Homo sapiens: one gene and its partners. The protein of the gene in region 1 purifies or fractionates together with the protein of each later gene. This does not show direct contact. Each region holds a gene or a part of one and is shown in the gene's direction. Other genes may lie near its edges. The genes, in order: CHST10, CTPS2, VEGFD, SLC67A1, HS6ST2 and SERPINB7.

Region 1 (3,500 bases):
AGACAAGGAGAGTGATTCACCTGGGTCTTCATGGAGCTCTGACCCACCCAGGGTTAGGAGGCTCTCTCTGAAATTATTTGCCATCAGCACTGTGTTGAGGGGACCACTTCTCCCTGCCATGCAGAAGTGATGGATGGCCTCAGTCAGTCGGTGGAAGCCAGCTCAGCCCAGGGTCTTGTCTGTACGTGGAGAGCTTTGGCTTGAAGAAGCACTGTGTTAAAGGTGAAATGAAACACACTTTCTTGTGTCACCTGCCAAGAACTGACAGTGACTTCCCAGTTCTTTATGTGCCTCCTGCAGGAGAGTGTGGCTTCTGTGCCAGGCTGAGGACCGACATGCCCCGTGTTGCTCCCTGGCTGTGACAGCATGAAAAACACCCACCTCAGTGTTCTACCCAGGCCGCTGCTGGCAAGTGGGCGGAGGCGAGAAGCGTCAGTGTTCATTCCTTTGCTTTTTTAGAGCTTCTCTAGGTGTGGCTACATCTTGTCAGCCAGTCAGAATTTTAAACACAGCCAGCTCCTAATTGCCCCAGCATGGCTTCTGCCCACTATGAATGACCCTCAGCTAAGGCCTAGTCCTTGGCAGGCCTCTTCCTGCCACCTGCTTCCAGACCATCGTGGGAGCTCACTGGGACCTTAGCCTGGGCCCAACAGGAGTCAGGGATCAAATGTGCAAAGGAGTCTTATTCTGTGTTCTGAGAACACAAGGAAGTGGTCTTCTCTCATTATCATGTCTCTCCATTAGGGTGTTCTAAATTTGATTTTATTATTGAATCAATCATTTATATTATTAATTCAATATGAAATGTTAAATGCCAAGTCAAACTACCTATTGTAGCAGTGGAAAAAAACGGAAATATTTGTGCTGATACTTACTGACTGAAATCACCTGTCGTTTTCATTCCTCTTTGTTGACTTGATGTATTTGTAAGCAGCAGGGGCATCTCGCTTGTGTTTTCCAGGAAGAGTCAGTGAATGGCTGCGGTGTGACAACATGCACCACCAGTGGCTTCTGCTGGCCGCATGCTTTTGGGTGATTTTCATGTTCATGGTGGCTAGCAAGTTCATCACGTTGACCTTTAAAGACCCAGATGGTACGTATGCTTCATGGTGGAACGAATTTTGGCTAATTTAGACCTAGCTGCAACACTGTTCCTAGGTACATGCATAGATGACTTCTGTCACAGAGTCAAAGGACTTTCATGCCAGCAGGGACCTTGGAGGTCATGGCCTCCGTTCCTTCATGTTACAGAGGTGTGAGGGGAGGTAGGGTGGGAGGGGCTGGAGGGTCTTTTCAAGCATCTCCTCTGGAGGAAGGAAGCTGCTCTTTGTGGCTGAGGCCTGGGTGGTGCCTAGGAGCAAGGAGCAGGGTCTCCTCCCAGCAGCACAGTGGCCTTATGCCTTGCAGCAGGGCGCCTCTCAGGCTCGCAGTTGGGAATTCTCTTTGCCTCATGTCATCATGAGAGGTGCAGCCTCAACTGCTTGGCATGCCCGTGTGGTGGCCACATGTTTGAAGGTCACCCTCCATGCAGCGGAGGAGGGTCATTTAAATGTATGTCTTCAGGTTGTCTTGGAGGCTTTCTTAGCTCTCCTTTACTGAACGTAGGCATTCAGATGAGGACGGATAAAGAGCGCCAAATTGGGTCTCAGAATGCTGATTCTACTTCGTGCTCTTGTCATTTGCTTATCTACATCACAATGTTTCTTCCACCAAATGGACACCCTGCCTGCTCCGGCACCGCCCATGATTGCCCTGAGCATGGTGAGGTGCTCTGTGGTCTGTGGAGTGCTGGATATGTCCAAAGAGGTGTGTGATATGCTCTCCAGCCCCGAGGCCACTTCATTGAGTGGCCAAGCAGGCAAGCACGAGGAAGCCAGACACATGGAGTCATTGAAGTCCTCATTTGTGCCGTGGATTGGCCCATTCCTTTAGGCTGATTGGGAGATACTGGGGAACGTGGATGAGCACAGCACTTTGCTGTGCTCTGCACCGTACTTTGTCCTCCTGCCGATGGTGGCCTTGGAAAGGGGCAGTTAGAGATGCCTCTGTGCCAGCAGTTCTTCCTGGAGGCTGCACTGACCTGTGCTGTCTGTGTGGGACAGGCCCCTGCTCCACCTCACAGAGCTCCCAGGCATGTCCCTGGCTGTGTCAAGGACTGCCCGATGTCCTACACCTCCTGCCCCATCCTCTCTCTGCCCCACCTTGTCTGCAGAGGGACAGCAAGGTTAGAAGGGAGGTCTGCAGGGAAAAGAGGGACACCCTGAAATTAGCCCACATGGTGGTTCTCCCCATGACAGTTGTTGGGCCCTGATTGGCTGTCATCACATGTCCTGCCTCATCCTCCAGGAGCCCTGGAGAGAAACCTGTGAGGTCTGCACAGCCTCGGGAGGTGATATTACACCTGCAGGTATCTGGGCAGGTGTCACTGAGCATGACAGCTCACGCCCGGGACTCGGGGTTCCGTCAGCAGAGCAAGGGTCGATTCTTGGAGGGTTGCTGGAATGTGACACGATGATCTCAGTTTGACAGTTTGGACATTTCCATGGCAGCTTCAGCACAGTGCCATGCCACTGAGAGATCCCTCCTGAAGCCCTAGAGCCGGGTTCTCATCCCCGCAGCACTTCAGAATCACCTGTGGGACTTTACAGACCTGCTGCTGCTTGAGACCCAGTGAAGGAGAATCACTAGGGGTGGGGCCCAGTTGAGAAGCACAGTGGTAGATCCTAGCTGGAGAACTGAAGAGAAACAGAGCTGCTGAGAATAAGAAATAGGTGTTACTCAGGATTCTCCTAAATGTCACCTCCTGGTATGGAAGGCACTCAAAAGGCAGGTCATGAGGTTAAATTGTTTATGGTTTATTTTGCTTAAAAAAGTAGGAGTAGATGTAATACATTTTAGTGAGACTTCTATAGGTAATAGTTAAATAAGACTTGTGCCTTTGTGTTTTACTGTTATCTGGCAGAATGGCCTCTAAAGAATGCCTTGTTTCCCAGCGGCATCTGGTAAATGAGGTCTCATTCTCCTTTGATGTATCAAGTTTTGTGCTGAATGTTTTCAGTGTAGACACTGATCCTGGAAGCTAAGCAGGGGTAGGCCCGGTTAGAAAAAAAGCAAGTGTAGGCGCAGAACAGGGTTTTGTGAAGCGGAGAAAAGGAGTGGTAAGGAGTGTTAGGAGATAAAACCTATGAAGAAAGATGAAGGGCTTTCGGATTTTACACCTGGAGAGGAGCACCGCAGCGGTCCTTAATACTGCCTGTGAGATCTTTCCAGCCGGCTGCCTTCAGGCGAGTGAAAGGGGGCACTTTCCCTGCCCTGTGAGATCTGGTGTGGTGTGTGGGTGCTGGGTCACTGAGATGGGAGTGCTGCCCCTGACCCCGAGGCAGGGGCTGCTGGTGGTGAGGATGCTGTTGGCCGCACAGTGTGCAGTGAACTCAGTGAGAATCTTCTGTTGTGGGCCCACTCCCGTTGCGGGGTGACCACCACAGCACTACCCAGCCTGC
Region 2 (3,500 bases), on another chromosome or scaffold:
TAACAAAAATATGTCCATCTTTGAAAAATCTACTGGAAGCAAAGTTTTGATTTTTCCATTGCCTTTTTAATCCTAGGTGAAGTCTTCGTCTTAAATGATGGTGGAGAAGTTGATTTAGACCTTGGAAATTATGAAAGATTTTTGGATATTAATCTTTATAAAGACAACAATATCACCACGGGGAAGATATATCAGCATGTGATCAATAAAGAGAGGCGTGGTGATTACCTGGGGAAAACAGTGCAAGGTATTATATTCCACAGACATTATGGAGCCCTGTGTGCTGAATATCTTTGTACTGCTCAAAAGTAGAACTGAAGGCCGGGCACGGTGGCTCAGGCCTGTAATCCCAGCACTTTGGGAGGCTGAGGCCAGTGGATCACCTGAGGTCAGGAGTTCGAGACCAGCCTGACCAACATGGTGAAACCCCATCTCTACTAAAAATACAAAAATTAGCCAGGCATGGTGGCGCATGCCTGTAATCCCAGCTATTCGGGAGGCTGAGGCAGGAGAATTGCTCGAACCCAGGAGGCAGAGATTGCAGTGAGCCGAGATCGTGCCACTGCACTCCAGCCTGGGCGACAGAGTGAGACTCCATCTTAAAAAAAAAAAACAAAACAAAGCCAAAAAAACCAAGTAGAACTGAAAATGTCACAGTCCCTGCGCTCTACAAGTTCTAATTCTTTTAAAATTGTTGCGTTTTTTTCTTTTCATTTTCCAAAAATATGTCAGGGTAACTTGCCAGGTGACTTTCAGGTGATTGGGGAGGCCTAAAGCACATTCTTTTCTCATGAGCATGGAATAAACTTTTGTATTAATACTTCTTTCTACAGTTGTCCCTCACATTACTGATGCTGTCCAGGAGTGGGTTATGAATCAAGCCAAGGTGCCGGTGGATGGTAATAAGGAAGAGCCCCAAATATGCGTTATTGAGGCAAGCATAGAACTTTCTTTATAAAATTATATCCTGCTGGGTCTTTGAGCATCTGATCTTCATTTATTTGACAAATACTTACACACGCCCTCCTGAGTGCTGGACACTGGGCTAGGAGGTGGGGTCACAGCAAGAAACAACATAGATGGCTTCTGTCTTTGTGGTCACAAGTGAGTGGGCAAGATTGGCATTAGACAGACAATCACACCTACTCCTGGGTGGACGTGCAGTGATCTGCTTGTGGAGACTGATCAGCTGCTGATAAAGTCAATGTGAGGGCCTCTTCTGTGCCGGGGCCTGGGATGGGCACAGTCTCTGACCTTGGGGAGCTTGCAGACAACCCTGTCTACACACAACAGACTGCATTCTAGTGCATACTATTTGAAAAGTATTTCCGAAGTGCTTTGGAAGTGTAAAGAGACACTGGGTTAGGGAAGTCAGATGGTAGCGGTGATAAGTGATTAGTATCAGCTGTTTAAAGAAAGAAGCTAGTGGCTGCGCGAGGTGGCTCATGCCTGCAATTCCGGCATTTTCAGATGCCAGGGTGGGAGGATTGCTTGAGTCCATGAGTTTGAGACAGCCTGGGCAACATGGCGAAAACCCGTCTCTACAGAGACTACAAAGATTAGCTAGGCATGTTGGTACGCACCTGTAGTCCCAGCTACTTGAGAAGGTGAGATGGGAGGATCTTTTGAGCCCGGGAGGTTGAGGCTGCAGAGAGCAGTGATTGCACCAGCACTTCAGCCTGGGTGATGGAGCCAGACCCTGTCTTAATTTAAAAAAAAAAAAAAAAAAAAAAAAAAGTCGTATTTGAACTTGCCACTTGTTTACTTCCTTCACCTTGTTCCCTTCCTCTCCACGTGCAGAATGACAATAACATCCATATCCTCCTCCTCTAAATGTCAGTTGGCTTAATTGCCGGGCGAAAGAGCAGAATAATGACCAATTTGGTTCTTAGAGTCAGGCTGCCTCAGTTTGTATTTCTGCAGTGACCCCTGAGCCACGTATAGCTCAGTGATTAAGAGTCTGGAGGCAAACTGTCTGGGTTTGTAGCCTAGCAAGGTCACTTATGGGGAGGAGGGGGTGACCTTGGGCAAGTTTGCTCAACCTCTCTGTGCCTCTTTAACTCATTTAACTCATTTGTAACTCATTGTTTTGAAGATTAAATAAGTCTCTACACTTAGTGCTTAGAATGGTGTCACAGATATAGTAAGTGCTTAAAAATTATTAGCTATTATTAAGATGCCTGTATGACTTTTGGAAAATTCTCACAGTTTCAACGTCCTCATTTGTAATAATGTAATAATATAATATTATAATAATAAGATAATAACAGGATTGGGGATTAAATGCAATGTATCAGAGCACTTTGCAATGTCTGGCATTTAGGAAGTGCTCAGTGAACATAAGTTAGCTATTATTATTGTCATCAATGTAAGTGTTAGCAGATATCATGATATGTAGAAGATCCATTTTGTTAATAGTAGAACTGATAAAGTTACTGGCTATTTATTTTTTATAGATAGGGTCTCGCTATGTTGCCTCGGGCTGGAGTGCAGTAGCTATCCACAGGTGCGATCAAAGCCCACTGCAGCCTCAAACTTCTGGGCTCAACCAATCATCTTGCCTCAGCCTCCCAAGTAGCTGGGACTACAGTGTACCACCACTATGCCTGGCAAATTTTTAATTTTATTTCTTATTCTACCCTTGAATTGACTTGTCTTCACAATGATTAATTTAGCACTTAATATGTACTAGCCCTGATGATAGCTGCTAAGGATGTGAGGTTGAGTGTGATCTGACTCCTGCTCTCCAGGAGCTCATTGGCTGGATTTTAAATTTCATGGAAACAGGGAAACTGACAAACAGAACCCCTTCTCCGTTATAACCCTGATGTTTATATTTGCTTATTGGATACTAGTGGTCAACCATCCTCTTTGGTTGATTGTAAGTTGTGTTCAACAGTTGTGTCTGTGCACCATTTAAGCTTTTGAAGAAGGACTGCCAAAGCTGATTTTTAGTTTTAATCATAGAGGAGCTGTTGAAATGTCTTCAAAGCCATTTTTATGAGTGAGACCTCAACTTCTCATACCAGTGGAGCTGACAGGTTTTATTTATATTAGTACGAGTTATCTTGGCATGAACCTGAAATAATTTATGCTTGTCTTAAAGGAATAACAGTTTTCTTTCTTCTTGTTTATTTTCCAAAAAAGAAGACTCAGCCAAGTGTGGTGGTGCAGGTCTGTAGTCCCAGCTACTTGGGAGGCTGAGGCAGGAGGATCATTTATACCCAGGAGTTTGAGGCCGCAGTGAGCCATGATCTCACTACTGCACTCCAGCCTGGGTGGCAGAGCGAGACTCTGTCTTTAAAAAAAATTTAAAAAGGGCCGGGTGTGGTGGCTCACGCCTGTAATCCCAGCACTTTGGGAGGCTGAGGCGGGTGGATCACGAGGTCAGGAGATCGAGGCCATCCTGTCTAACACGGTGAAACCCCGTCTCTACTAAAAATACAAAAAATTAGCCGGGCGTGGTGGTGGGCGCCTATAGTCCCAGCTACTCAGGAGGC
Region 3 (3,500 bases), on another chromosome or scaffold:
AGCAAGGCTGCACGCCCTCAAAACACTCTTGGAGAGAATCTTTTCTTGCTTCATCCAGCTTCTGATGGCTCTAGGCAATCCCCCGCTTGTCACTGCATCACTCCGGTCTCTGCCCCCATCTTCAAATGACCTTCCTCTGTGTCCCTGTCTTCTCTTCTGTCTCTTATAAGGACACTTGTCATTGTACAGTATTTAGGGTCCACATAGATAATCCAGGAGGATCTCATTTTAAGATCCTTAACTTCATTACATCTGTACAGATCCTTTGTCCAAATTAAGGTAATGTTCACAGGTTCTGTGGGTTAGGATGTGGACATATCATTTTGAGGCCCACCATTCAATGCACTACAATTTTCTTTGTAAGTGTTCTGAGAACCCAGGAAGAATAAGTAAATCCTCTGATTCAATCAAAAATGAGCAGAATGTAAACCAAAAATACTAGAAGATATCCTTTTTCCTAGGCACTGGCATACGTTTCAATAGTATCTCTAATTACAGATGTATTTACACTTCTAAGTGTCAGAAATGAAGATTATTATGACAAATTTAAAATTTAGTAACTTGTTTTTAAACTGGTATTTTTGTTTTTTTAAGCGATCATCTCAGTCCACATTGGAACGATCTGAACAGCAGATCAGGGCTGCTTCTAGTTTGGAGGAACTACTTCGAATTACTCACTCTGAGGACTGGAAGCTGTGGAGATGCAGGCTGAGGCTCAAAAGTTTTACCAGTATGGACTCTCGCTCAGCATCCCATCGGTCCACTAGGTTTGCGGCAACTTTCTATGACATTGAAACACTAAAAGGTAGGTGTGTGGATGTGGAGACAAATTCTTTCTCTTTATTAGATAGTGACAAACACACTTACTTTCTCCAAAAGTCTGCGTAGGGCAGACACGTGTCAGAGGGAGAATGAAAGTCGGTCTTTGATTTCCAGTATTAGTGCAGAATCTTGATTTTTTAATGTTTACTTCACAGAGAAATATATTCAATATGATTTTGAGATAAAAAACACAAAAGAACATCTCAAAATATAGAAATAAATTTAACTCAAGGATGTGGGGGCAAAGAAAACCCAGGAAGACTATTGTTCTCAATAGAAAAACAATCATCAGGTTTACTTAGAAAATAAAACCTGGGGATTCATCCACAAGGAGTATTCTACTGCCATACATACATAGACAAAAACCAAAGATGGCCAGGCATGGTGGCTCATGCCTGTAATCCCAGCACTTTGGGAGGCCAAGAACGGCAGATCGCTTGAGCCCAGGAGTTTGAAACCAGCCTGGGCAACATGACGAGACCCCATCTCTACAAAAAAATAGAAAAAAATAGCTGAACATTGTGGTACGTGCCTGTATTCCCAGCTACTTGGGAGGCTGAGGTGGGAGGATCGGCTGAGCCCAGGAGGTCGAGGCTGCAGTGAGCCATGATCATGCTACTGCACTCCAGCCTGGGCAACAGAGCAAGATCCTGTCTCAAAAAAACCACCCCCTCCCCGAACCAATAGATTAGGTATAGCTTTTTTTTTTATTTCTGCAAAGTTGTGTGATTTTTTAGTAAAAGTGAAAAGTAAAAGTTAGACACTGAGTTGTAATATTGGGTACTGGTATTGCTAGGAGAATAATGAAGGGAGAAAATTCTCAAGACAAAATGATCAAAACTCCAGACTAGAAAATAACATAATTTGAAATAAGGATAATGATCGTTCCCTAGTAACGTATGAAGATTCTTTAAAAGAAAATCAGGCCAGGTGTGGTGGATGACACCTGTAATCCCAGCACTTTGGGAGGTTGAGGCAGGTGGATCACCTGAGGTCAGGAGTTCGAGACCAGCCTGACCAACATGGTGAAAACCCATCTCTACTAAAAATACAAAATTAGCCAGGCATGGCGGTGCATGCCTGTAATCCCAACTACTTGGGAGGCTGAGGCAGGAGAATCACTTGAACCCAGGAGGCGGAGGTTGCAGTGAGCCAAGATTGCACCATTGCACTCCAACCTGGGCAACAAGAGTGAAACTCCATCTTAAAAAACAAAAAAACAAAACAAAACAAAACAAAAAAACAAAGAAAGAAAGAAAGAAAACCAGTGTGAGTAGGTACTGTCATAATGAATAAAATGCTTGTCAAGTAAAGTTCTGTGGTTTCTGATTAGGCACTTAATTTTTTGATGTCATGTCAAAACAACACAAGAAGCTGCTACAGCATTGCTGATCTAGCATTCTAGATTTGATTAACATGATTACCTGGTAACTGACTATATATATAGCATAATTCAAATTAACCACTAGGCCAAAACTATTTTTTTCTTTCTACCTAAAATTGTATTTGTTTTTTCCCATTTGTAAAAAGATGTTGGGGTTGCACAGACCTCTGTTGTTGGCTGTGGGGAGAGCTGTGCATAGATGGGGACATATTCTTTGGTAGCACCTTGGGCATGAGTGTGAAGAGGATTCTTAGTGTTCATGTGTATGACTGTGTGTCTAAGTGAGTTGATGTGGTAGGAACCATAGCCTCGAGCTCACTTCAGACAGAAATTTGAAGCTCTAGATGTTTCTATGTGGTGAATTAATATAGCCTTCATGAGAACAAAGGGTTGGCACCTCATCTAGAGGTCAAAGGCCTTAACCAGATTACCTGACTGAAGGCCTGAGGTGAACCTGGAGCTATTTCATGAACATGAACGTTACCATAAAACCAAGACTAGGTGATCTAAAAAAAGTCAATGACATTGACATTTTCTAAGGAGAAAACCATTAAAATATCACGGAATTTGCAAACCCTATGAATTTATCTCGTAATTTCTAGGGGATCATCTGAAGTTATTTACTAAGTTAGAAGCAGTCAATAATGAAATCAGCATGTTACACCAATTAGAATTTGTTATCAACTCTCCCTTGTGGATTTCAAGGTAATTTCCTGAGGCAGAGCAGTCCTGCTGGGAAGCAGTAAAGAATAGTAGAGTTATGAAGCCTTTAATCAGTGATGTTGGTCATAATTGCATATGATTTTGATTAAAAGCTTACCACTCCAATTTCAAAACTTAGTTTTATAAAAAGAGAAAAAGCAAATGGAAAGCAACCTTTAAGTAGAATTTTAAATTGGGAATATTTTCATAGGTTGGTTTCTTGTTTTTTCAAGGATTCATGATTAATTATAGTGAATTAAATAATAACCATAATAATACTTAATTGAGTAATTTATCTCTCATGTGTTCAGCCTTCAGGCTTTTTATATAAATATTAATAATCAGAAATTTTTAAAAAGGTTTCTTGGGGGCTGGGCACAGTGGCTCACGCCTTTAATCCCAGCACTTTGGGAGGCTGAGGTGGGCGGATCACAAGGTTAAGAGATCAAGACCAGCCTGGCCAACATGGTGAAACTCCGTCTCTACTAAAAATACAAAAATTAGCTGGGCATGGTGGCGCATACCTGTAATCCCAGCTACTTGGGAGGCTGAGGCAGGAGAATCGCTTGAACCCAGGAGGTGGAGGTTGCAG
Region 4 (3,500 bases), on another chromosome or scaffold:
ACTTCCTCCTGTCTCTCCCTGAGGGGAGGGGGCTGGCTGAGCCCCCAGGAGGCAATGGTGACAGTTGGAACAGCCAGCTTCAGGTGCCTCCGTCCCCAGGAGACAAGACCTGCCGATTCCTTCCAGGGGAATCACAGGCCAAGTTTCCAGGTGGGGACTCATGGCAGGGAAGCTGACGGTACAGCCAGAGTCCCAGGCCTTGGTAGTGGCCCAGGAAGGTGGGAAGGTGGCAAAGCAGCCTGAGGGGCACCTCCGGGGCTTTGCAAGGCTCTGGGATCCCAGCCCAAAGCCCCCTCCAAGCCCAGCATGCCCCACACTCTAGAAAGTGGGGAGGGGCCAACAGGAGGGGGGTCGGTTTCTGAGGGCCTGCTGAATGCCAGGCCCACCCTTGCCCACGCTGGGGAGGCAGCATAGCCATCCCCATGACACAGCACAGGTGCCCAGGTCTCGGAGAGCCCCTCCCAGGGACATGCACACCAGGCTTGCCCTTTGGAGCCTCTCCTGACCTTGGCCAGCGTGGGAGCTGCTGTTCCTGGGAGGATCCGCCACCTGCCCCAGGCGCTCACCAGCCTGGCTTCCACAGCTGCTACCCACAGGGGCTGCCGGGGCCTGCATGGCGTGGCGAGGGTCAGGGATGGTGAGCGCCCCACCCATTCCTTCATCCATCACCTAATAAATGTGCTCTGAGGGTCCCAGTCCCCACTCTTTAGGCCACAGACTGTGGGGATGTGGGAGGTCAGATTTAAGCTATTTTAGTGCAACCAAAGGTGCAGGTTGGGGGATGTGGCTGGGGCGCCTGGGCCCTGGGACCCGCACCCTGTGCAGCCGAGGCTGTTGCCCGCAGGATTCAGTGCCCGGCCATCCTGGCTGCCCTGGCCACCCTCCTGGGAGCTGTCCTCAGCTTCACCTGCATCCCCGCCAGCACCAAAGGGGCCAAAACTGACGCCCAGGCTCCACTGCCAGGTAAGCCCCGCCAGGTACACCCTGCCCAGATGCTGGGGCAATGGAAGGCATTGGCTAGGCCTGCGTGCTCCAGCCAAGGGGTACGGGGGGCCTGAGGGGAAATCTGGGGGCTACTCACACCCTCCTGCCTTCCTTGAACCCTTCCCAGCTGCTGACATCATAGAAGCCAAGTGAGGTGTGGTCATGAAGAGGTGGAAGTGGGGCTCCGGCAGGCAGGGAGGCCCAGAGAGGCAGGAAGGCCCAGACAGGGAAGGCGTTAGGAGGGGAGGCCCAGACAGGGAAGGTGCTAGGAGGGGAGGCCCAGAGAGGCCTGGGGAGGACCAGGAGGGACCCCCCCAATGGGGTGGGTGGGCCAGCAAGGCTCCGGAAGCTCTGAGTGTCCAGGGAGAGGCGAGGGTGCTGCCCGAGGGGCACTCATTGGTGGAGGGCAGAGGATGGTCAGGCTGGTCCCATGAGGAGAGGCCAAGGCTCCTCAGAGGGGGTCCCCTCAAGGCTGGCCCCCTGCTGAACGCAGCCCCTTTGTGCCAGGCACGTGGCAGGGCCCATGCCTCGGTGCCTAGGGACTAAGAGCCCAGCCTGGGCCAGAGGGACCCACCTGGGACCATCCTGGGGCAGGAGGCTGTCATGGAATTAACCTAGAAAGTCCAGGGGGAGGGCCGGGTGGAGATGGGCCTGTGGCGAGCACAGCAGAGCCAGAGAGGCAGGAGCCCCTGAGACAATAAGGAGGAAGGACTCGGTGAGCCGGGCTGGGGGCCTGTGGCTTCGCACTCAGAGGTGCCCGGTGGGCCAGGCCACGGCGGTGACTTGTGGCCACAGAGAGTGGTACAGTATTGCCATTGTCTTCCTCTGGGCTGGTGGCCTGGTCATGCTCTGCCCCAGGCCCCAGGCCAGGACCATATAGGAAGCAGCTATTGGTCCCTTGTTCAGGGACTGCCGCAGGCCTCCGCCACTGCATGCCCAGGTTGAGGCCAGTCTACCTGCGTGCAGAGAATGCTTTTCCTAAGTGCCTCTGGGGATTCAGGGGGCCCCTAGGAATGCGTAGAAGTGTGCTGAGGGGCGGTGCCCAACCTGGCAGCTGGGAGCATCACCAGCTCCCATTCCCACAAGTGAGCGGTGCTGAAGCCAAGGAAGGAAGCTTTACCCTGGCGGGCGCAACAGGGCCCTCCGAATGGCGAGGCCTGCAGCCGGGCGAGGGGTGGGCATTGGGACAATGGCCTTTGCAGGCCTGAATGGCCTCTCCGTGCCAGGCGGCCCCCGGGCCAGTGTGTTCGACCTGAAGGCCATCGCCTCCCTGCTGCGGCTGCCAGACGTCCCGAGGATCTTCCTGGTGAAGGTGGCCTCCAACTGCCCCACAGGTGAGTCCCAACTACTGCCCCAACAGCGGCCAGAGCCTGGCAGAGTCCCAGCTGCGGCCAGGGCCCGGCCCTTCCTCTGGCCTGTGCCCCACAGGTCCACACAGATGTGGTAGAGCAGGCAGGAGCGGGAGGAAGGCAGAAAAGTGTCTTTCCCACCTCCTTCCAGCCCCTCTACACTGCACACCTGCAGATCCCAGGGTGGGCCCCCACGGGCAGAGGGCCTGGCTCGCAGCCATGCATCCCTGTGTGCTCCTCAGCTCTTACCCTCATACCCTGTGGCCCCACGTCCTCTCCAGACAGCCTGAGATGCAGGGACAGCAGGTCTGAGTGTCACCACTGCCTTCTGCAGCATGCTGGCCCTGGGCCCTCTCAGCAGACCGTAGGGCGTCACGGACCACAGATAGGATAGCGAGCCACGGACAAGCCCACGAGCAGCCCTGTCCCTCAGAAGCCCCGCCTGGACTCCTCTAACTGAGAAGCCAGGAAGCAGGATGGAGAATAGGCCCTCAGCACTCCAACTGGCACCGGCCCCTGTCCCACCCAGCCCACCTAGGCCAGCTCTGTTGGTTCTCAAAACTGGAACCCAAGTTACTAACCTCAGTAACAGGCCCTTTGAGGGCCCTTTTTTTTTTGAGACCACTGACCAGGCTGGAGTGCAGTGGTATGATCTCAGCTCACTGTAGGCCCCACCTCCCAGGCTCAAGCAATCCTCCTGTCTCAGCCTCCCGAGCAGCTGGGACTACAGGCATGGGCCACCACGCTCAGCTAATTTAAGTGTTTGTAGAGACAGGGTCTCACTATCTTTTCCAGGCTGGTCTCAAACTCCTGGCCTCAATCAGTCCTCCCTCTTCGGCCTCCCAAAGTGCTGGGATTGCAGACGTGACTTTGAGGGCTCTTATAACAGAGAGCCGTGGTGGGTCTTGGGGGCCAAATCCTCCCACGTGGTCAGCCCTGGGTCCCTCCCTTCCAGCACCTTCCTGCTCACAGTCCAGAGCTTAGCAACCACACGAGAGGCACTTTCCACACCAGGGATACGGCAGAATCCCAGGGAAGGGTCTCATTGGCCCGGCTGGCATCACAGGCCCCTCCCTGAACCAGTCACCAGCCAGGGCCCAGACACCCTGATTGGCCAGGCTGCTGAGGCGGGAGGGAGGTGGGCGCCAAGGTCGGGGTGTGGGGGTA
Region 5 (3,500 bases), on another chromosome or scaffold:
GCCCAGGTTGCTCTCTGAGTGCCAGATCTGTTCATTCAACTCTACTCAGATGTCCCGCAGGCACCTCAGTCCTTCCTCCAGAGCTCTAGGAGGCATCCTTAAGTCCTCCTCCTCTTTCTCCCCCGAATCCCTTTTGTCACTTTTACCCGCTAAATATTTCTCTAGTCTGCTCCTCCTTCTCTTTTGCCTTGTCTTCTGCAGTGGCCTCTTAACTAACTTCACGAATTTCATCTTCATATACATAATGATCTTTCTAAAACACAGACCTCATCATGTCATTCCCCTGCTTAAAGCCCTTCAAAGCCTCTCTGTTGCCTGCAGAATTAACTTTGAATGCTTTAATATGGCATCTGTGGCCTTTCACAACCAGGTCCTGGGCTCCCTCTCCATCTTCAATTCCTGCCACTACTCCTTCACTCCCCGGGAGGTTTTTTGATGCACGTTTCTCTTGCACAATAGGCTGGTTTATGCCTCTGTGCCTCTGCTCATGCTGATCCTTCTGTCTCATACTCCTTTCCTCTCTCCTTGACTCATTTTTTTTTTTTTTTTTTTGAGATGGAGTCTCACACTCTGTCACCCAGGCTGGAGTGCAGTGGTGATACCATGGTGCACTGCAGCTTCTACCTCCTAGGCTCAAGTGATCCTCTCGCCTCAGCCTCCCTAGTAGCTGAGACTACAGGTGTGCACCACCACGCCCACTAATTTTTCTATTTTTTGCAGAGACAGGGTTTCACCATGTTGTTCAGGCTGGTCTTGAACTATTGGGTTCAAGTGATCTGCCCACCTTGGCCTCCCAAAGTGCTGGAATTACAGGTGTGAGCCACCGTGCCCAGTTGCCTCATCTAATTCTTGTTTTTCAAAATAAAGCTGCAGAAACCCTTGTCTTATCTTTAGGCTAGGTTAGAAATCAGTGTGAGGTGTTTTTTTTTAATCATACCCTGCACTTGCTCCAAGCATTCATGGCACACACAATTGAAACACTTTCCCCGGGTTTCCATGTCTTATCCCTGTCTGTATCCCCAGTGCCTGCCATAGTGCCAGGCACACATTAGGTGCCAAGACTAAGCAAGTCTTGACCTGACCTGACCACTGAGGGAAAACTGGCCATGTCTCTGTTTGCCCCCGACCCCAGCTGCATTCCCCAGCGTGCTTCTCTGATATTGCCCTAAAAGCTCTTCCTTGGATATAATGAGCATCCTGGATTCTTTTTCTGACATAACCTCCAAGGTGTTATCTTTACCTGCCTTCCTACTTCCAACACACCATGAAATTCAGGAGACCCCTGGACCCTGGACACCTACCCTTCAGCAGATCTTTCTTTCTTTCTACACATGGAATATTTCTAAGCAGCATCAAGTGCTTTCAGTTGAGGCATTCTGGGTCCCCAAGGCTATTTGCCCTGGAAGAAGGGGGCTGTTGACACTCACTGAATCTCTGCAGGTTTTGTCATATGAGTCTAGGTGGCTGTTATCACCAAGGCAGCAGTGTGTGTATGTGTGTGCCCCTCTAACTTCTCTGCTGCAGTGAAAATCCCTACAGTGTAGACACTGAGGCTGCCTACGTTGGGCTGTCCGTATTTCTTAAGGGCACTAGGTGACCTTCAAGTTGAATGCATACTGGATCCACACACCCACAACATGAGAGACCCTCTCTGAAAGTCTGTCTCTGTGTTGCCTTCTCTCTATCCATGTTGGGGTAGGGGTGGTGCTTATGAAACATTGATTGTGTCATTAACCCTGGTGGTTGGGATGTATTTGCTCTGAAAGGCTAGGAACAATGTTTAGGAAGGAGAGCTGCAGACTTCCACTGTGGTGCACTCTTAATATTTACCAGAAGATGTCACTGTAGGCTTAAACCAATACAAGAAGTTAGGGCAAGAAGACTTCCAGCTAAGCATGAAGGTGACTCCATTTTGGGGGGTTAGAACACCGAGCAGCCCCCATTACAATGCATGCCTGGAAAAGCTGGTTGAAAGGTTAATCCAAATGTGTCACAGACCTTAATAAATTTCTTTTTTTTTTTTTCCAAATAATCAGACTAATTGCCACTAAACTGTTGCCTCAGGGCTAGCATAAAGGCTCAATAAGTATGCACTGAATGGATGAGTACTAAAGCTAGGAGTGGAAGGAGGGAACCCAGGGCTTTAGTAGTCATCTTTGTTGGTAAAGGCTACTGGAGAACAAAAGCTGCTACTCTTTAGCAGTGGCTTCTCATAGAGATGAATTTTAGTGGCACCAACAAGATCAGGTCCTAGGGAAAGTAGTGAGACAAGTGAAAGTGCTCTTGGCCCCTTTTCCATCCTCACTCCCAGATGCTTCTCCTGTGCCCAATGCTTGTTTCTTCCTGAAAAAATATATAAAGTGATTTATTTTAAGAAAAACCTTCCTGTGATTTTTTGCAAGGCACTTAGAAGATTATCCAGAGTTTTTATGTCATGAGGCATGTCCCTAGCTCTCTCCTTCCTCTTCCCCAGGATAGTTCATCAAGTAAGCAGTTAAAGAAGTTACTGAGATTCTGCTTTATGCCAGGGATGAAGGCCAATGTACAAAGCTGGAATGGATGGGATGAGGGCTATATAGAAGAATAGGACAGAGCCCCTGTCCTTGAAAACATAGTTTAAGTGGAAATATAAACAATTAATTGTAATTCAGTATCACACATTTTTGGGGGAGGCAGTGGGGTGGAGGGGTAGGGTCTCACTCTATTGCTCAGGCTGAAATGCAGTGGCACAACCACAGCTCACTGCAACCTCCGTCTCCTGGGTTCAAGTGATTCTCGTGCCTCAGCCTCCTGAGTAGCTAGGATTACGGGAGCGCACAACCACACCTGGCTAATTTTTGTATTTTTAACAGATGGGGTTTCACCGTGTTGTCCAGGCTGGTCTCAAACTCCTTACCTCAAGCAACCCACCCACCTCAGCCTCCCAAACTGCTGGGATTACAGGCATGAGCCACCGTGCCCAGCCCCAGTATCACAAATATTTTAACAAAGGCTAAGTATAGAAGTGCTATGGCAACACAGAGGAAGAAATGATAACTGGCAACACAGAGTGGGGTACATTTTTTCACAAAAGAGATGGTACTTGAACTGGTATTGAAGGATGAGTAGAATTTTCCAGCCAAAGAGGGAAGATCATGGCAGGCAGAGCAAGCACCATGTACAGGATAGAGGCATAGGAGATAGATTTCAGGATGCCTGAGGTGATGGAAGCCCCAGTTGGGAGAAACGTTTCCTCAATGAACATCAGCCAATATTCAGTTAAGCAGGTGGCTGAGCAGGTTCCCTGTGGCTCCTCATGTATGTGTAGAGAACAACCACTCCCTCAGATGGGAATGAATATTTCAGAAAAGTTGCAAGCCATTCTCCGGGTTTCCTTTAAGAAGCTAAATGCTAATATTCAATGTTTATTGTTGCTTTCTTTCCACAATATGCCCTTCTGTGGCCTCGTCCTTCATCTTCTGTACCTGAGTGGTAACCCATTTCTCATGAAAAGCACAATG
Region 6 (3,226 bases), on another chromosome or scaffold:
TTTTCTCCTAATTTCTTTTTATTTTAAAAAGCATTACTATATCATAATATTGTTTTAAACACTCTTCCTGCTAGTCCACACACCCTATGTAATGTAGCTATAGCAGACAGCTTGTAATGTAATATGCTGTTGAATCTAGATCTCTGATATCAATGTTAGTTCTATCATATTAAAAATTGGTGACATAATCTCTCCAGCATAACCCAGATGTGTGATTCTTTCCCTGCCCCAGTGAGACATCCTGTCTATCACATCCCAGTCCCCATGTGTATCAGGCTCAATTCTGGGGACCTGTCTCACTAAGCAGGTAGATTTCATGTGTGTTCTTTCTGAGGATTGGACTTTAAGTCAAAAAAGGCAACCTTTCCAGAGAAGGACCTTTGGTTCAAGGACAGAGAATTATCTGTCCTCCCCATGTAGGATGTTTTTTCCTAAAAGGGGATATTACAGAAATGTTGACAAGTTTGCAGATCGTAATATTACTAGGAGAAAATTTATTGCACCTCAGTGTTGTCTCTAAATCTATAAATGATATTCTCAAGATAAGAGCTACTTATTTTTTGCCCTAGTGAATTTGAGGGACATTATCAAATACCTTGCAGGAATCTCTATTTTTCTGAGACCTCATGCTTAAATAGCGTATTTTTTTTTTTTTTGAGACAGGGTCTTAAGCTTGCTCAGGCTGGAGTGTAGTGGTGAACTCACTGCTCACTCTAGCCTTGACCTCTTGGGCTCAGGTGGTCCTCCCACCTCAGCCTCCCAAGTAGCTGGGAGTACAGGCATGTTCCACCACACCCAGCTGTTTTTTATTTTATTTTATTTTTAGTAGAGATGCAGTCTCGCCATGTTGCTCAGCCTGGTCTTGAGCTCTTGGGCTCAAGTAGTCCTCTTGCCTGGACCTCCCAAAGTGCTGGGATTACAGGCATGAGCCACAGCGCCTGGTCTTAAATCATGTAATTTTGTTAGTACTAGTCTGTGTTTTACTTCTGAGAAGAAAAAAAAACCTATAGCATTCATTTTTCATTTTAATGTTATTTAGTAAATTTTCATTACTTATTATAGAGACTTTTCAGTTAAAATACTAAGTACAAGGCAATGTTCCAAGTGCTAGCTATATTAATTCACATAATCCTCACAACAATCCTGTACAGCAGGGATTATAGTCATTCCCATTCTATAGATGAGGAAATGGAGGAACAGAGAGGAACAGTAACTCACCCAAGGTCACATAGTTAGGAAATTTTAAACTCAAGGAATCAAATTTGAAGTCTTGGCTTTACCACTAAGATTTGCACCAATGCAACCACTATTGGTAACATGTCAGGAAAAAATCTGCAGGGTCAACTGAGCAAAAATTTATTGACCAAGTACAATATTCTTATATGTATTTGGTTAATAAAGTAAAATGAGGTGGGATCATAAATAATTTTTTGTGACTTGACTTTCAGTGCTCTGGGAAGGCAGTCGCCATGATGCATCAGGAACGGAAGTTCAATTTGTCTGTTATTGAGGACCCATCAATGAAGATTCTTGAGCTCAGATACAATGGTGGCATAAACATGTACGTTCTGCTGCCTGAGAATGACCTCTCTGAAGTAAGTTACGACTGTCATTTTCACTATTGGGAAATAAGACTTTTAGGATACTGTTGATTGAGTTTTCACTGATAAACTGTAAGATTTCAGGGTATTGAGATACTAGAGACTTACCTGCTTATTAATTTATTTGACAAATATTTAAGGGGTACCTAGTATGAGCCAGACATCATTATAGTTGCTGAGATTGACTTAACTCAGTTTAGCATAATTTCAGTTGAGTAGTGATCAAATTGGAACTCTCTCAAATGTCAGCTATGGAATTAAAAAGACATGAGTTTAGGCCTTTTTGGTGTTTGGCCATGAATACAGTCTTCTACGTGTCATTGAAATTTTGCTAGACTGAGCATCTTTAGGCAGGTATGATATGATAGAGTCCTGAGCCTTTTAGAATTAAAATGTATGGTCTCACTGTAATTGGACAAGAGGGTCTCCCTGCCTGCTGCACAGACAAAATCAATTCACTGAGGGCACAGCATTGTAGTAAAGAGAGTTTAATTGATGCAAGGCCGACCATGCCACATGGGAGATGAAGTCACTACTACTCAAATCAATCTCCCTGAAGGTTTGGAGGTTAGGAGTTTTCAAGGATAGTTTGGTGGGCAGCGGTCTAGGGAATGAGCACTGTTGATTGGGTGGGGATGCAGTCACAAGCGTGTGTAAAACTGTCCTCATGCACTGAGTCCACCTCTGGACTCTGTGGGGGCCAGAGGACCGGTTTAGTCATGAGTCATGAGTCCAAGTGGAGTTAGTGTCAGAAATGTAAAAGTCTGAAAAGACATCTCAAAAGGCCAGTCTTAGGTTCTACAATAGTGATAGTATCTACAAGAGTCATTGAGGGGGTTACAAATTTTATGGCCTCCATAACAATGATTGGTTAATGTTTACTATCTCTACATCGTGGCGGAATTCAGGCCTCTCTCATAATCATAATCATGTGGTCTTTCATTAGTTTTACAAAGGTGGTTTAGTTTTGGGAAGGGCTACTATGATCCTTGCTTTACATTCAAACTATAAACTAAATTTCTTCCAAAGTTATCTTAGCCTATGCCAAATAATGACCAACAACATCTTGGAGGTTAGCAGCAAGATCAAGTCAACTATGTCAGATTTCCTACTGTTATAATTTTGCAAAGGCAGTTTCATCACTCCATGCTGCTGTGTCTCAAGTGAAAAGCACAGTTTAGGGACTGCCCTGTGACTGATGTGGCAGGAGAAATGGACCAACACAGTGCAATGGGGAGACGGTGGGGGCCGTGCAAGCCAGACACCACCACTGAATCTCAGAGCCTGATCTTTTTTCAGCCCTTTTTCTGCTTTTCCTCCTCCTGAACTTGGCTCTTTGAGTTTGATCTGCAATCTCAGAGGCCTGGACTCATCTCCCTTCTCTATTCTCTCATTAAAAAGGAATAATAGGTGCCATTTATTGAGCACCTACTACATCCCAGGCCATGTGCTCTGAGCTTCATTTATATTACCTTGTTTGATGTTTATAGCAAGCATGTGAGATAGGGAAGGGAGGCTGACAGAATTTGGTCAATTTTTCTGATAGATACATATGTATAGATATGCATATTTGTGTGTATGTATGTGCACACACATATATGTATGTCAGCTATACTGAAAAGTTA

What was found.
Region 2: the proteins of CHST10 (region 1) and CTPS2 purify together in Homo sapiens (affinity purification with mass spectrometry; one large-scale study listed by BioGRID and IntAct). This does not show direct contact.
Region 3: the proteins of CHST10 (region 1) and VEGFD purify together in Homo sapiens (co-immunoprecipitation; one large-scale study listed by IntAct). This does not show direct contact.
Region 4: the proteins of CHST10 (region 1) and SLC67A1 purify together in Homo sapiens (affinity purification with mass spectrometry; one large-scale study listed by BioGRID and IntAct). This does not show direct contact.
Region 5: the proteins of CHST10 (region 1) and HS6ST2 purify together in Homo sapiens (affinity purification with mass spectrometry, with the first as the bait; one large-scale study listed by BioGRID). This does not show direct contact.
Region 6: the proteins of CHST10 (region 1) and SERPINB7 purify together in Homo sapiens (affinity purification with mass spectrometry; one large-scale study listed by BioGRID and IntAct). This does not show direct contact.

The regions. Positions count from the first base shown.
Region 1 is NC_000002.12:100,404,169-100,407,668, reverse strand, and holds part of CHST10 (carbohydrate sulfotransferase 10), read left to right. Parts: exon of another isoform or gene 1-222; intron 223-961; 5' UTR 962-993; coding exon 994-1,093; intron 1,094-3,500. UniProt on the Homo sapiens protein: Catalyzes the transfer of sulfate from 3'-phosphoadenylyl sulfate (PAPS) to position 3 of terminal glucuronic acid of both protein- and lipid-linked oligosaccharides.
Region 2 is NC_000023.11:16,695,670-16,699,169, reverse strand, and holds part of CTPS2 (CTP synthase 2), read left to right. Parts: intron 1-76; coding exon 77-247; intron 248-833; coding exon 834-934; intron 935-3,500. UniProt on the Homo sapiens protein: Catalyzes the ATP-dependent amination of UTP to CTP with either L-glutamine or ammonia as the source of nitrogen. Constitutes the rate-limiting enzyme in the synthesis of cytosine nucleotides.
Region 3 is NC_000023.11:15,360,414-15,363,913, reverse strand, and holds part of VEGFD (vascular endothelial growth factor D preproprotein), read left to right. Parts: intron 1-594; coding exon 595-805; intron 806-3,500. UniProt on the Homo sapiens protein: Growth factor active in angiogenesis, lymphangiogenesis and endothelial cell growth, stimulating their proliferation and migration and also has effects on the permeability of blood vessels.
Region 4 is NC_000011.10:2,915,778-2,919,277, forward strand, and holds part of SLC67A1 (solute carrier family 67 member A1), read left to right. Parts: exon of another isoform or gene 1-422; coding exon of another isoform or gene 423-637; intron 638-844; coding exon 845-963; intron 964-2,210; coding exon 2,211-2,318; intron 2,319-3,500. UniProt on the Homo sapiens protein: May act as a transporter of organic cations based on a proton efflux antiport mechanism. May play a role in the transport of chloroquine and quinidine-related compounds in kidney. Plays a role in the regulation of lipid metabolism.
Region 5 is NC_000023.11:132,630,130-132,633,629, reverse strand, and holds part of HS6ST2 (heparan-sulfate 6-O-sulfotransferase 2), read left to right. Parts: intron 1-3,500. UniProt on the Homo sapiens protein: 6-O-sulfation enzyme which catalyzes the transfer of sulfate from 3'-phosphoadenosine 5'-phosphosulfate (PAPS) to position 6 of the N-sulfoglucosamine residue (GlcNS) of heparan sulfate.
Region 6 is NC_000018.10:63,799,418-63,802,643, forward strand, and holds part of SERPINB7 (serpin B7), read left to right. Parts: intron 1-1,448; coding exon 1,449-1,595; intron 1,596-3,226. UniProt on the Homo sapiens protein: Might function as an inhibitor of Lys-specific proteases. Might influence the maturation of megakaryocytes via its action as a serpin.